Regions from separate parts of the Homo sapiens genome. Here region 2 is linked to region 1. A link means that fine-mapping ties the variant in region 1 to the expression of a gene that starts in the linked region. Tissue or cell type: whole blood. Region 1 holds a variant in brackets; the other region holds the start of a gene. All regions are shown on one strand. Distances are between the middles of the regions.

Evidence for each region. PIP is the estimated chance that this variant, and not a neighbour inherited with it, causes the effect.
Region 2: it holds the start of SH3TC1, and the variant in region 1 is fine-mapped to the expression of SH3TC1 in whole blood (TOPMed, PIP above 0.99).

The regions. Positions count from the first base shown.
Region 1 is chr4:8,236,756-8,247,795 of GRCh38, reverse strand. It overlaps SH3TC1 (SH3 domain and tetratricopeptide repeats 1), which reads right to left. Exons shown (of 18, transcript NM_018986.5): 17 at 10,126-10,322; 18 at 6,693-7,098. The coding sequence ends at 6,841. Among named protein-coding and RNA genes, the nearest start is that of HTRA3, 27 kb to the left of the region's middle. RefSeq lists enhancers at 2,651-3,152, 5,175-5,736, 8,206-9,064, 9,065-9,925 and silencers at 5,329-5,458, 9,279-9,328. The variant A/G (reference allele first, on the strand shown) is at 6,687.
Region 2 is chr4:8,197,175-8,202,174 of GRCh38, reverse strand. It overlaps SH3TC1 (SH3 domain and tetratricopeptide repeats 1), which reads right to left and starts at 2,885. Exons shown (of 18, transcript NM_018986.5): 1 at 2,770-2,885. RefSeq lists enhancers at 599-808, 1,539-1,688, 1,819-1,868, 1,999-2,048, 3,079-3,198 and 1 more and a silencer at 2,679-2,868.

The DNA.
Region 1 (11,040 bases):
TGCTGGAAACAAGGCTTAGGTCAGAACCAGCCCAGCTTTGCACTCTGCCCTGGATCCAGGCCCTGTCGGGAACGGGTGTGTTCACAGGGCCCGGCAGTGTGAGCCGTGACCACACAGCGGGGTCCTCCCTGCTGGCCTGGAGATAGCCAGTCTGCTGTGCGTTCCTGCATAGGAGGTGGGGATGCACACAGGGGCTCCCCTTTGGGGCCGACAAGGGTCAGGAGGTGAAGGGAGAGGCTTGCCCCTGGGCCTCTTGGAGTCCCTGAGGCTCTGGGGACAGGGCAAGGGGACTGGCACCGGCTATCCTCCCCAGAGGGGCTGGGCCTGGCCTGAAGCCTGGGGTGCTGGCATTGTGAAACTGCCTCCCCTCTCAGACTTCTCTGGAAACCCAGCCCTCCCCATGCGGATGAGTCCCCAGAGGTCTCCTCATCCTGCAGTCTGGGCTTATCGGAGCCGTCACAGACGAGGAGCTGCCGTGTTTGCTATGGGAGGGACGAGGTCGGCCCTGCTTCCTGGAGACCTCCTGGCCCTGGAATTCTCTTTTCCTGGGATGCCGCACAGACCCAGGCCAAAGTGGCCGGGGTTGTGAAATCCTGTGTTTGGCTCTGGCGGGTTACCGAGGGCTGGCCTGGTGAGCACGGCAGCGGACGAACAGGGTCCAGGACAGGAGGCCGTGCTCGCAGGACGCCCACGCCAGGGCTCAGGACGTGTGCCCTGTGCTCTGCAGAGAAGGCCACCTGAAGCCCAGGCTGTCCTGGGGTCACACAGCTGGGTGGAGGGTGGAGGCCAGGGGTCCCAACACCTGCCCCCCTGCTCCCCGATGGAAGGTCATTACTGTGAGTTGTCCAGGGTCTTGGCATGTTGAACAAAACGCACAAAGCAACAAGAGAAGCAACAAGAGACCAAGCAACAGAAGAACGGAGCAACCAAAACACATTTCCTGAAGAAGCAAAAGTGCAATTCACAGAGTGGGAGCGGCTCTAGCAAGCGGCTTGAGGGCCCCTCAATTCACGTGTTTATTAAGCTAAAGAACTTGGCAACACCCCTGGGTGCCCTCGAGAGGCCCCCAGTTGGCTACGCCCTATGAAGGACTGGCCCGCAGTCCATCAGAGGTGAAGTGGACACTTGGCCCGCGGTCCATCAGAGGTGAAGTGGACACTTGGCCCGCGGTCCATCAGAGGTGAAGTGGACACTTGGCCCGCGGTCCATCAGAGGCTGCGGTAGAAATTTCTGTGTTGTTATCGCAGAAGCGAGGATGTGGCCTGGGTGCCGCCCAGTCCTGCCTAGAACCAGCTGCCCCTGCAGTTCTCTGGCTTACTCTAACTGGCCGCACCTGCTATTCCTTTGCTCATGCCCCAGCCCTTGGCTACCCCAATTCCCCATTCTCCTGCCTTACTCCTCCTTCTCCCTTCTTCCTTAATTCCTGGTGTGGGAGCTGAACGTGAAGACCTCAGTTTGAGGAGTGGACCTGCTGGTACAGGTAAGTGGGCAGGCGAGGAGGCGACCTCGGGAAGGGCTGCCTGGCTACCGCCCACCATGAGTCCTTCAGGGCTGGAGGGATGCCTGGGGCTCGGCCTCCCCATTCCTAGGCTTGGCCTTGTATTTGCTATCTATGCTGTGTACCAAATTATCACAAATTCAGCAGCCTAAAGCAACGCCCCTTTCTTGGGTTGCTTCTTGCATCAGAAGCCTCATGTGATTCTCTGCCCAGGGTCACCACAAACTGTAATTGAGGTGCCAGCTGGGCTGTGATCTCCCCCACGATTCAGCGTCCTTCCAAATTCACGTGGTTGTTGGCAGAATTCAGCTCCGTGCCATTGTAGGTCTGGGGTCCCGTGTGCTTGAGGGCTGCCAGCTGGGGACCGTTGAGCTCCTAGAGAGCCTGCAGCCCCTACTGGGCCGGCCTCTCTGTGGGGAGCCCACTGTTTACTGTGCTGTGCAGCCTGGAAGCTGTTTACTTCCAGGCCAGTAGGAGAATCAGAGAAGGCTGAACCCTCTTACACAGGACTCACTTGATTAGGCGAAGCCCATCTGCAATCATCTTCCTTTGAATAACTCCAAGTCAACTGATTAGAGACCTTAATTACATCTGCAGACCTCTTCACCCTTCCCACGTACTGCAACCTACTTGCAGAAGTGATAATCCTATCACAGCCCAGACTCACCTGTGCTGAAGAGGAAGGAGGCACGCAGAGTCAGTTTAGAATTCCGCCTGCCTGCACTTCCATCTGGGGGGAGGCATATTATTCTTTTCGCTGTGTTTTTCCATCAACCCTGGAGGACCTGACAAGCCCTGGAAAATGTGCTAAATGTTTCCTACGATGCTGTTGATCTTCATAGTAGCTCAGCAAGGTACATCTCATTGCCCCATTTTATAGCTGAGAAAACTGAGGCTCGCAGAGGGGCAAGGCATACGAACGGGAGCCCACTGCCCGGTGCTCTGGGTCAGGGCGAGTCAGAGAGAGGCAGAGCCTGGACTCAAGCCTGCTTCCTGCCCCTGAGCTTGCATAGACCCCACCCTGCTGCCGGTGCACAGGTCTCGCCAGCTGCCCGGCCTAAGACCCACAGCCTGCTCCCCAGGCCGGGCGCTGGACACAGGGCGTGTGAGTTGACTGCGGCCAAGCTCCCTGGAAACACAGTCTGGATCACTGATGGCGCCAACTGGAGTCCAAGGGCACCTTTATGCCCAAACAGTGTCACCCGGACACACTTCTCCACTCACGTGGGAGACCCTTGTGGCCTGCTTGAACCCCTCTGCAGACGGGGAGCTCACTTCTGCCTGAGGTGGCCTCTCCCATCTCCGGAGAACCCTGCTCAGGAGAGAGTTTGGCCTCACGCTGGGCCGTAAACCACCTCCTCTCAACTCCTGGGCTCCGTGGCGAAGGTAAGGCTGATGTAGACTTGCTGGGCACCCTTGGAATGGTGGCCTGTATGCTGCCCAATCCTGCCTAGAACTGGGTGGCCCTGCTGTTCCCTTGTGTGGAGATGGTGCTCTCTCCATTCAAGGGAACAGCAGCAGGTCAGCCAGTTCCCTTGGGATGCTGATCATTCCATACCCTTAGGATGGTGACCCTCCCTCTCTGAGCCTCGGCTCCCTCATCCAAAATGAGGGTCCAACTTGGACTCGGCCGATATTTACCCCTGGAGGAACCAGTACAGGGAAGGATGTGGGCTCCAGGAGAGTGCAGGCGGCTGTGCTGGGCGGAGCTCCCTTGCCTCTGAGTCAGGAGAGGGGGCTGTGTGACCTTGGGCAAGGCTCTTTCCATCTCTGTTCAGGGGAGAGTCTCCAGGGACCCCAACAAGGAGTGTGATTTCAGCTGCAGTCCCAGGAGCACCTCTGGGAGGGCCTGGAACACTCCTGGAGTTCCCTGCACCTGCCTGAGGCAGTTTCTGCAGCCCATGCAGTGGGCGCTTGCTGAATGTGTGTGGGAAGGTGACTGAGTTAACCTGGGGATCATGGCCGCCTCCTTCTAAAATTGGGGCAGCTGGCTTCTGGGCTGCGAGACCACTGGCTGCGTAGAGCTGGGCACGTGCCCACTGGACATCTCTTCATCTCATGCCTACTTTGCTGAAGGGGGTTGTTGTTGCGGCGGTTGTTGCCCGGGAACCAGCCTCCGACGGGCAGAGCAGGGCTGGAGACCAGTGGGCTTAGGCCTTAGCCAGCCGAGCCCTGACCTCCACCCACCACAGAACAACGGGACTGGCTGCCTGGTTCTGCACACCAACTCTGTGCCCCTCGTTTCCCATGCATTCTCTCCTCACTCTTGGAACCTTGGGGTAGGCTTTGTCTTTGGTGACAGATGAAGAGACGAAGGGTCTGAGAGGTTAAGCAAGTTTGTTACTGGAAAGGGGTCCCGACCCAGACCCCAAGAGAGGGTTCTTGGATCTCACAGAAGAAAGAATTCGGGGCGAGTCCATAAAGTGAAAGCAAGTTTATTAGGAAAGAAAAGGAATAAAAGAATGGCTACTCTGGCCAGGCACAGTGGCTCACTCCTGTAATCCCATAACTTTGGGATGCCGAGGCAGGTGGATCACCTGAGGTGAGGAGTTCGAGACCAGCCTGGTCCGACACGGCAAAACCCTGTCTCTACTAAAATACAAAAAATTAGCTGGGCGTGGTGGCGGGTTCCTGTAATCCCAGCTACTAGAAAGGCTGAGGCAGGAGAATTGCTTGAACCTGGGAGGCGGAGGTTGTAGTGAGCCGACATCACGCTACTGCACTGCAGCCTGGGCAACAGAGCGAGACTCCATTTCAAAAAAAAAAAAAAAAGAATGGCTACTCCATAGGCAGAGCGGCCCCAAAGGCTGCTGGTTGCCCATTTTCATGGTTATTTCTTGATCATATGCTAAACAAGGGGTGAACTATTCATGAGTTTTCCAGGAAAAGGGTGGGCAATTCCCAGAACTGAGAGTTTCTCCCCTCCCTTTTGAGACCTTATAAGGTAACCTCCAGACGTTGTCATGGCATCTGTAAACTGTCATGGTGCTGGTGGGGGTGTCTTTTAGCAGCTAATGCATTCTAATTAGCATATAATGAGCCGTGAGGACAATCAGAGGTCACTCTCGTGGCCACCTTGGGTTTGGTGGGCTTTGGCCGGCTTCTTTACTGCAAACTGCTTTATCAGCAAGGTCTTCATGACCTGTATCTTGTGCGACCTCCTATCTCATCCTGGGACTAAGAATGCCTAACCTCCTGGGAATGCAGCCCGGCAGGTCTCAGCCTCACTTTACCCAGCCCCCATTCAAGATGGAGCTGCTCTGGTTCACATGTCTCTGACAAGTTGACCTGGGTTGAGTGTTCCATAGCGTGTGGTTGTTGGAGCTTTTCTTAGGAGTAAGAAGTATTGTTAGTAGGAAACAGGCCTCTATTGGCCCTGGGGCTGGCACTCTGCCCCAGTATGTCAGTCTCATTTTAGTGGTGACCAAACTGGGGCTCAGAGAAATCAACTCCCTCACCCCGAACCCCCAGACTGTGAGTGGTGGGCTGGGGTTTGAATGTGGGGCTTGAAGACCCACCGTTTCCTCTGGTCCCCCATGCTCTGCTGCCCGAGAGGAACAGGATCCCAGGATCCAGGCCCCTGATGGCACCAGCCAGGGTGGGTGGAAATGGGGAGGCACAGTCCCAAAGCCCCCAGGACTCTGAGGCAGGTCGGGGGCTGAGAGCAACCCGGAACTGCAGACCCCACCCCGAGAGGAATGGCTGCAGGCCCGGCCCGGCAGGCAGGAGGTCTGTGTCCTCAGTGACCGTGACGACGCTTCCCGCTGCTCCAGCCAGGCCGTGCCGTCTTCATGTTTCCAATCATGCGGCCTCCTCTCCAATTCCCAAGCCCAACCCACAGAGACAGCGGTCTGGGGTCAACATGAGGTTTGTCAGCAGCTCTGAGCCACTGCTTCCCTCCAGCCCCGCGGCGGGTTCTGGAAAGCTCTCTGCTGCCCCCTGGTGGGGAAGCTCGGGGCGGGGCAGGGCTCCGGCGGCAAGCATGGGGCTCCCCTGTAGCGCTCCCAGACCCTCCTGGCTCTGCCACCTCTGCTGGGTGGAAAACCAACCCAGGCCTGGACCAGCAGTGGGTGCCTGATTCCTTATTATCAGAGCTCCGCTCACTGGCAAGTCCCTCTTCGGACCCCAGGAGAGGGGCTTGGGGGATACCAAGGAGGGGTAACTGCTTAATGAGGACGGGAGGTTTCTTCTGGGGAGATGAATGCCTTTTGAAACTAGACGGTGTGGGTGGGTGCACAGCACTGTGAGTGCACAAATGCCACCACATTATTCACGTTGAAATAGTTAATTTCATGCGATGTGAATGTCACCTCATTTTAAAAGTGTTTAAAAGAGGGGCCTGGGAGAGTGCAGTGTTTGTGAGAATCACGTGGGGCACCCACAATCTCTGAACCTCGGTTTCCTTGCCGTAAACTGGCGAAGAGACCGTGTGAGCCGTGTTTCCTGGGGCCAAGAGATTCCAAGAAGGAAAACCTGGGATTCCTGGGGACTGAGATGAGGGCCGGGGGCCGGAAGGGGAGGGGTACATGGGGAGGGCTGAGGGGCAGCCCAGAAAAGGCTTTCAACACTGGGCAGCAGCGTCTACACAGGCAGAGATCCCTGCATCTCACTTCCCACAGGACTGACCAGTGGCTGGAGGTGGGACTGGTCAGGCTCAGCCCAGCCAAGTCTGGGACCAGAGGACACTTAGTGGGGGATCCCCTGGGCCACCCTCACCGCCCTGTGGCTCTCCTGACACCACAAGAGAGGTGCAGGAACTGACCTTGGGTCCTAATGGGGGCACCTTCCTGGCAGCAGGCCGGCAGGGTGGTGTGGTCAGCGCACTGGGCTCTGCGTCTGTGTGATGGTGGGCCAGACAGTTAACCTCTCTGTGTCTCTATTTCTTCACTGGCGAATGGGGGCACTAGCAGCCCCCACCTCCGCGCACAGTGGCCTGAGGATTAAAGGCAAGGGTGGCACAAGACCTACGGCAAAAGCTCCGAGCAGCTGCCCAGGGAGTTCCACCACCGTCTCCCCTCTGGCCGCCAACGAAACCCAGGCTCATGGTGACCTGGCACAGGTCTGTTGGACTCGGGGTCCTTCTCATACCCAAGATCAGGACATAGCAGCAGGGCTGCCCCCAGGGAAGGGAGCTGGCCCCTAGACACGCCCCAGGAAGCATACTAGGGAAGGATGCCCTGCTGACTTC[A/G]ATAAGTTATTGCAAAAAAAAAACAAAACCCATTTATTGCTATTTGGCCCCTGCGTTCGTGCCTCCATTTGCCAGAAAATGAGCCACCGGCGACACCAGGAGAGGCAGGAGACCCCCAGCCCTTGCACAAAACCCACTCCCTTGGATGCTGTCCTCAGCGAGGGTGGCTGGGGGCCAACCAGGGGGCCCACCCGCAGAGTGGCAGAGGAGGCAGGTTGACCCTGCGGACGTTGAGCTCTGTGGCGAAGGTCCTGGCCTTCTGGTAGAAGAAGAGCGACTTCTCACGGTCCAGGAGGAAGTTGTGGTAGATGGTGGCCAGCCGCGTGTAGATCTTCAGCTGTGCCTTCTTGTTGCCCAGGTCCACGGCGGCTGCCAGCGCCAGCTGGTAGTACCCGGCTGCATCAAACGGGTCCTGAAGGGGACAGGCCATGCTCAGCAAAAGGGGGACTCGGAGCCAGTCTCCCCAGAGGCCGTTCCTGTGCCCAGGTCATTCCACATGTCCGGCCAATGCTGGCTCACCCCATGAGCCCCGAAGCCTGTGACACTGCTGTGGGCTCAGCTGCAGGAGGTGGAGACGGCCCTGGCACCCCCTGGAAGGATTCCTGATTGTCCCTACACCCCACTCACCCCGAGCCTCCTGTCCCAGCCCCACCCTCTCTGCAGGCAGTGGCTGCTTTCCCCGTGGGCTGAGGTTGGGGCGGATCCTGCCTGCTCTGAGAGTTCCATGCAGGACCCATGGCTCCCAGCCACAGCAGGGGCACAGTGTTGAGTGACCCAGGCTTCCCTCTGGCCCCTGTCCATGCTGACCATTTCCAGGCCCTCCATGGGCCGGGCCAGGTATAAAAGCATCTCCCAGGTGTCCTCTCTGGGAATCTTCCCTGAAATATTGACGGAGTGTGATGCCCCAGACATCCACTCCCATTTTCAATGCATCTGTGGCTCAAACTCACCATCCCTGGGTTGGGATGCCACTTCCCAGACCTCCTCCTTGACCCTCCCATCCCCCACCCAGCTTCTCCCCAGGCACCTCCTCCACATGGGGGTCACCCAAGGGACCTCTCTAAGACCCAAGCTTGGCCCATTCCCCTTTACCATCTCAAGATGGCTCCCAGGGCCAAGGACAAAGTCTAAGATGCAGCAGCCCATGCCCTCACGGCCCCGCCCCACACACAGGGCAGGGGTGCGAGAAGGGCCCGAGTCACATCACTGCTCATCCAACGCCCCCCAGCCCCACCGAACACTGGACTCTGTGCCGGGTGCATGGCTGAGCCTAACGTCCCTGCTCCTCTGGGGGACCTGGGAGTGAACACTGATCACACAGGGTGGCCAGGGCTGTGGCAGAGGCAAGCCCAGGAGCCTGTGGGGGCCCAGGAGGCCCCAGACTCAGCCTGGGGTGGGAGGCAAGGGCTTCCTGAAGCGGGTGGCATCCCAACTAAACAGGAAGGAGCCAGCCAAAGCATATGTGTCTCTGTGTGCATGTGCCTGTGTCCGTGTATGCCTGTGTGTGTGCACGTGCCTGTGTGCGTGTGCCTCTGTGCATTTGCGTGTGCATGTGCCTGTGTGTGTGCATGTCTGTGTGTGTGCCTGTGTGCATGTGCCTGGGTGCATTTGCGTGTGCCTGTGTGTGCCTATGTGTGCATATGCCTGTGTGCATCTGCGTGTGCGTGTCCGTGTGTGTGCATGTGCCTGTGTATTTGTGCATGTGCCTGTGTGTACATGGGGCCTGTGCCTGTGTGTGCGTGTGCCTGTGTGCATTTGCGTGTGCGTGTCCATGTGTGCATGTGTCTCTGTGCCTGTGCCTGTGTGTGCTCATGTGTGCATGTCCATGTGTGTGCATGTGTCTCTGTGTGTGTGTGTGTGTCCCTGTGCGTGCAGCGTGCATGTGCATTTGCATGTGCCTGTAGTGCGTGCAGCAGCTAGTGGGTGGCAGGCTGAGCCAGGACACACCTAATCCACCCTATTCCAGGGCTCACTCTCACATGTAGACTAAAGGGGACCCCATTTTAGAGGCAATCGGCAAAGATGCCCATTTACCCCTGCCTCTCTGCCAGCCTTCCAGGCCCCATCCAAACCGGCTTTCTCTGCCACCTCTCTGGGCCCTGGATCCGGCACCTCTACACAAGGAGGAGGGTGTGGCCTTGGAAAGACAGCAGCCCTGGGGGAATTCCGAGGGGGCCTCCCTGTGGGAAGCTGGCCTGCGCTGACAGCACAGTCACCATGAGGCCCAGAGGGCTGTGCCCCTTGACCCCAGCCATGGACTTTGGCCTCTCAGGGACTACTTCGTCCTTTCCTTCCTCCTGGGTGGGCGGAGTGGGCAGCAGGCATGACTAAGAGAGATAAAGTCCCCTCTGGAAGGCCCGTCCCCTGGGTCCCAGGCCAGCCCCTGAGCAGTGAGCAGCGTCCCTCTGGGCCAGACACCTGGCACTTCCCCGTCTGGCTGGGACTTGGGAGGCCACAGGGACCGCTTCTGACCACCAGGTGTCCCCAGCACCGGGCGGGGGCCTCCCTGGCAGCCCCAGGCCTGCCGCGGGGGATACGGGGCGGGGTCTTAGGGTTGCCGCAGCTCCTCATGTTGTTCTAAGGCCCCCAAGAGCTCAGTCCCTGGACTGGAGCGCCCTGGCCCCCCAGCCCACAACGAGCACCGATGCAGTGCCAGTGTGATGCTGAGTAGGGGCGGGCGCCTGCTGGGCAAGGGGGTGGGGACATCCCAGATCCGAGTCTGCCGGTCCCAGTTCTCCACCCCTGCAGGGCTGGGCGCAGAGGGAGCACAGGTCCCAGCACCTCCTCTCCAGACAGACCCGACCAGCAAGGCCTCAGCCTGGCTGTCTGGGGCCCCGCCCCACTGCACCTGCCCTGAGCTGGGGTTTCCCTGTCTGTGAAGCAGGTGGTAAGACACCGGCCCCGCCCCACCCTGCCTGGGTGATGTGAAGATTCAAGGTGTCTCGGGACTCCAGGAAGGAGTTGCTCAGTGCAGGCTGGCACCCTGGCAGGCTTCCTAGCAGAGGCGCCAGGATTTGGGTTGGATGTTGCAACATGGATTCAATGTGAGGATGATGCCATCCCCCCAAATGTCCTTCTCCCTACCCTGTTTTCTTTGTTAGATACAACTTGACACTTGACTGCCAAGACTCAGCTTTGGTGTCCCCTTCTCCAGGAGGGCCCCCCTGACTACAATCCCCCTTCTTTACCGAGAGGCCACCATTGCCCACTCATGTATCAGCCTCCCTGGCTGAGGCTGAGTTCTTGAGGGTGAGGCCTGGCCGCTCGGGAGCTGGGTTGTGTCTGCTAACCTTGCCAGCTCCTCCAGCCGGGCGCAGCGCTCCAGGGAGGCCACTGGGCCATTCTTAAGGAAGGCTGGAACACATGCCTCAGGGGTCTGGGTGGAGATCCCACTCCAAGGGGGCCGGGAACACCCTGAGCCCAGCCCCTCCCCACCCACCTTCAGGTCGTAGAAGATGATGTCACCGAGCACCAGGTACACCTTCACGTAGTAGAGGGTCTCCTCGTCAAACTCCAGCGGCGAGTTGCAGAGCGACAGGGCCTTGAGGTAGAAGTGCTCTGCCAGCTCGCCATGGCCCAGTCGGTGTTGCAGGGCGGCCAGCCGGTGGTAGGCCACGCGCTCGTTCAGCCGGTCCCCTGGGGTGCAGGCCAAGGGGGCAGGTGTGAGGACGTGGCTCCCCGGGGCAGGCATGCAGACCCCGGCAGCACCTGGCTCGCCTCCAGGCACTGCGGTCACCTGGGCAGTTCTGGCCAGTCCCTTCCCAGCTCCCAGACTCACTTTCCCATCTACAAAGCAGAACTAATAAGGCCTGCCCCCATCTACCGTGAGGCTTTGGCAAAGTCGGACTTGGATGGCCCAGCTCTGTGCCTACATATAGCCACCTGCCTTTGCTCACTGTTTTTAACCAGGAGAGCCCAAAAGGCATGCAGCCCACGCGCTCCTGGGCACCAGGGCTCCAGGCAACCCACAGACATGACATCCAACTCTTCCTGGGTGTGTCATCATCAGAGTCCCCTACCTTGGGGAGTCACTGCGTGCCTGAGCTCCAGGTCCCCCCACAGATGCGCGAGCCCACCCAGGCTGTCTCCGGTGTCCTCCCCTTTTCAGGGTGAGTGCTGTGGAGCCTGCATTCAATGCATTCCCACGCGGCTGCACACCTGTGTACCAGGCCCTGGGCCACAAGGCGCTGGGGCATGTGGCCTGTCTGGGGCTCCCTCTCTCTAGAGGACAGACGACCCTGGCACAGCACCGGGGGATGCCCGGCATTAAGGGGCAGGCTGCTGGAAGGGGAACTGGGACTTCATCAGCCACAGAGCCGTGTGGTTGATGAGGGTGGGAAGGGCACAAGAGAAA
Region 2 (5,000 bases), 43 kb after region 1:
GCTGCCTGTGCCCACCACCTGGCCCTGAGTCTGTGGCAGCACCAGGAAGCCCCTGCCTGCAAGGCCAGGCTGTCTTCCCATCTCCTCTCCGGAAGCACATGGAGGCGTCTCAACAAAGCGCTGGAATCCACTCCCTGGGCATGCGAGCTCCCTGGTTTAAGGGGTCTTTCGCTCCGAACGCCTGACCTTGGAGTCCTTGTCCTCCCATCTCTGCCTTTTTGTCCCTCAGAAGCTGGGTCTTATGTCCCTATAGGCAGAGCAGGAGTCCCAGCAGCCTCTCTCCATCCACTGGCTGATGCCCGGGACACCTGCCTGCCTCCCAGCCCACCACCTCCCCCTGGGTTAGGAACAGGCCTGTTCGAAACGGCATCCAGGGCTTCTCCGGGCCTGGCACACAGCTGGTACTCAGAGACTGTCTTCTGAGAAAAGGAGGGCTCCCCAGGCTCAGGGAATTTCCCACCTGCTGTTATAACCCTAAGCGTGGGATTCCTGTGCAGAGCCTGGCGATGAGGAAGTGAGCTCCTTCTCCACAGCGTCCCCTCCCTCAGCCCTGCAGGCCCAGCCACCACTGCACAAGCAGAGGCCCCAACCACGGGCAGGTGTTGACGCCCCCAGGGGCCAGCTCACCCAGCTGGGGGACCACCAAGCAGCCTGCAGGACTCTCTCCTTCCTGCCTTCATCCTGTTTGTTCAGTTTATCATCAGGACAAACCCTTGGGGGGCCCTGGATGGGTCAGAACAGGCTCCAGCCCCAGGCCAGCCTCCAGCCCCGGGGGAAGGGGTGGAGTTTGGCTCCAGAACACGGAGACGTGGGGCCAAACCCCGGTGTCTGGGAGGCCTCTCCATGCCTCAATTTACTGAGCCAGAAAATGAGAATGAGCACGCACACCGCACAAGTGGGTCGAGTGGGTTAAAGGGACAGTGCTCCTGGTCCACAGTCAGAGTTTGGTGAATGTGGGTTGGAAGAAGAAGGGAGAGGGCCGCGGCCAGCCCTGAATGGGTTTGGGAAGCTTTGGCCAAGCTTTCGCCAGGCTCTTACGGAACAAATACTTCTAGGGCCATTGAGACCTCACCTATGCCACCAAGCACCTCCGGAGGGTTGGCTTGTCACCTCGCATCCTGGGGTGACACTGTCCTTTCAAAATTCATGCCCCCAGAAACCTCAGAATGGGGCCTTATTTGGAAATGGTCTGCGCAGATGAAGCGACCTTCCCTTGGGATGAGGGTGTTCCAGATGAGGATGGCCCTAAATCCAGTGCGTGGTGTCCTTGTAAGTAAAAGAGAGGACACGGAGACACACAGAGGAGCCGGGCAGGAGGCCATGTGACCACCAGGGCGGAGAGTGGACTGATGTAATCACAGCCAAGGAGCGCCCTGAGCCACAGGCAGCGGGAAGAGGCAGGGAGGAGCCGCCCAGTAGCCTTCTGAGGGACGCCTTGAGTTCGGAATTCCGACCTCCAGAGCCGCGAGAGAACACGACCGAGAGGGCTGTGTCCTGCGCTCTGGCAGCAGGGGAAACCGGCGCACCCGTGCGCTGCTGGGCCCTGCCTTGCTCTTCTGTGTTGTGCGGCCATCGTCACCCGTGTTGCTGGAAGAGTGAGTGACGTCTCCATGCAAAAAACGCTGGCCCAGCGCCCCACACGGGACACAGTTGTCATCACTGTCAACAACAGTGTTGACAGTCACATAATTATGGCCATCCAGGGTGCTCACAGCATCCTCGGCTCACCTGGAGGAGGGAGGCACAGCTGTGCCCCTTTCACGGATGAGCCATCAGCTGCGGTGACTCTGCCTGCCCAAGGTCACACAGCCAAGCAGCACAGGTGGGGTTGAACCCAGGTGGTCAGAGCCCAGCCCCCACATACCCATCCTAAACCCAGACCTGACTCGGGCCCAGCCTTGCCTCCAGCCACAAGCTCAGCCGCAGCCCCGCTGCCTGGCGCTGGGAGGCCACACCCTGAGTGGCCGGCCCACATGCAGGCTGCCCCTGGCCCTGGCACTGGCCGACACCGCTAACACCCCCCAGCGTCACTTTGCTATTCATCTCATCTGAGCCTCGTCAACGGCAAAAGGTTGGAAACTCCCGCTTCACAGACAGGGCAGGGCTCCCAGGGCTCCTGGGGATCACGCACAGGCCCAGAGGGGGTCTCAGTGGTGTACACACACAGGAGCACACGCCCCGGCACACCTGCAGTTGAAGGCTGGGCCCAGACCCTCCCTGGAATTTTCAGGCTGAAGCCCCTGGTCCAGTTGCTGGTCCATTTGGTTGTTGGAAAAGAGGCCCAGGTGGCGGCATCAGAGTGGCCAGTTATAGCCACTGCGGTGCCGGGTGAGGCTGAGGCGCTGGGCTCGCCCTGGTAGGTCTGGTAGTGTGGCCCAAGCTAACCGGGCGCTGGGGTCACACCTGAGATCCGCTGGACTTGGAATCCAGCGACAGGCTGGCTCTGCTCCCAGACCCCCAGGGCCGCTCATGCCAAGGGCCAGCACGGGGTCAGGCCAGGTCCCAGAAGCAAGGGTGCTTGGTCAAAGCTGAAATCATTGCCCTCAATCACTGCGGATTGGCACTGCCAGCACCTGTGAGCTCTGAGTGGGGTCTGCTGAGGGTGCCGACGACCTCCCCGAGGCCCCCAGCTCGCAGTTTCGCTCCACCCCCATCCCAAACAGGTCAGAAAAGTCCTCAAGAAAGTGTAAAGATCCAACCATGGCAAGACTGGCAGACAGCAGCCTGCTCGGCCAGTCCACGCCCCGCCTGCCCCGGAGCCCCCCATACCTGCGGCGTGTTCCTCAGAGGCAGCTCCCAGGCCCACAGGGCCGTAGCACGCAGGAACCAGGTGGCCGCTCCTGGCCCAGCGCTGGCTGGCCCCACGGGGCTGTCTCCAGCTGGACGGAGCAGGCAGGGGCCGCCCACAGCCAGGCTGACTGCACAGCGGCCTCCGCCCCCTGCTTCCTGCCCTACTTCCTCCCTGCGCCTGAGGGCCGGTGACGGAGAGGCAGGCCCAGGGCGGCTGCACAGACACCGCAGCCGGTTGATCATTAGCTCTTTCCTGGACGAGGTCCAGGCCCTGTCCTGCCTGCCCGCTGCCCAGCCCCCAGGCTCTGTAGTAGAGGCTAGGGGCACCCAGTCCCCCGCCAGGCTGGGATTGGGGAAGTCCACCAGCCACCGGCTGCCTCAGCCCTGCCAGCCTCAGCTCTGATCTCTGTTCCTCTTCCATTTACTGCACACACACACACACGCATGCCTGCACACATACATGCATGCACACACACACGCATGTGCATGCAGACACACATACATATGCATGGGCACACAGAGACTCACAAGCACAAGTGTGTGCACACATGGACAGGCACACGTATGCACACAAACGCTCACGTGCAATTTCTTCCGTCTCTGCCCGGGTGCCCTCCGGGCCACTGGCTCCATCAATGGGAACATTTAGGGGAAGAGATGGGCTCCCCTCCTCCTCACCGCAAGCTCTCCTTGCTAGCCTGGCCTGTCCCAACGGGTCTACCTCTTTACCCTCCCACCGTCTCCAGGCCTGAGCCAGGTTTGAGAGCAGAAACCTTCCCAGCCAGGCAGACCCAAGGCCAAAGCACGTAATCTCGCCCCTGCCTGCTGAGGAAGCCTGGCCTGGGCTCACGTCAGCTGGGACAAGAGGCAGAACTGAACTCAAATTGCCCTGTTGGTCCCGCCTGTCTGCCTGCTCTGATGCCCTTGCCAACACAGGAGTGTGAGCACCCACGTGGTGGGTGTGGGCTGCGGGCTCCGGCCCAGCTCTAGGAAGTGGGAATGGGAGGGATCCCTCCAGCCTGTGCTGTGATAGGTCGGAGCTTTACACACACCTGGTTTGAGAAAACCAAGAATAATCCCTAAGTCAAATAGTTATGTATCCATCTCACAGACAGGAAAACTAAGGCTCAGGGAGGTAATGTGACATGCCCAAGGCCAGTGACCAACAAGAAGATAAGACTGGAACCAGGTCTGACTGGTTCTGAAGGCTTTAGGGCTGGGCTTTTCAACCAAGGCACTACCGACATTTGGGGCCGCATCCTTCTTTGTTGCAGGGCGGGGGGCTGTCCTGTGCACTGGAGGGTTTTAGCTGGTCCCTGGCCTCCACCCACTGGATGCCAGTAGCCCCCTCCTCTAATCATAGCAGCCAAACATAGCTCAGATATTGATCCCCTGGGGGTGAAGTCACCCCAGGCTGAGAACTCCCAGCCCAGGTGAGCTACTCAGGTCAAAGCCCCTCCAGCCCACACCTGCGTCCTTCATCCTCGCCCTCCCGTCCTGTTCACCTTTCTCTAATCACAGGCTCTGCCCAGGGGCTGACGCTTACCTCAAGTCCCTGCATCCTGCACGGTGAGCCCTCAAGTCACACCCTCCCTCCGCCCCACTGAGGCCAGGGCCCGGGATCGGGGGTGCAGCTGCAGATGCCCTAGGCATGCCCCTCGCTGCCCTGAAAAGAACTCGAGGATGGCCCAGGTGAGGCCCAAGCCCCTTAGGGGCCCAGCCTCCAGGCTCCCCGGCCCGGCCTGGCCAGGCCCCACCTTCCATGCCATCAACATGCTCAGTGAGCACACGGTGGGTTGGAGGGTTCAGAGGCACCAAAGGACACTTTGAGAGAATCCCCAGTGGCAGCAATCTGAAAGTCTGACCCACAGGCAGAGGGGCCGCAGCTCCCAGACCAGCTCTTCTTCCCTGCGGGGACACGGCTCCCCAGCCCCGGCTGCGTCTGAGGAGGAAGATGGTGTTCTCTCTGGCCTCGTCGAGGGGCAGTCACTCTATCAGTTTCATGGGGCTGCCACAACTGTGTGCCACAAACTGGGGTCTCCAGACAGCAGAAATGTCATCTCTTACAGTTCTGGAGGCCAAAAGTCCAAAATCAAGCTGTCGGAAGGGCCATGCTCCCTCCAGAAGCTCCAGGGGAGGCCTCTTCCTGCCTGCTCCAGCCTCTGGGGCTCCAGGTATGCTCCGGCTAGAGGTGGCATCGCTCCAGTCTT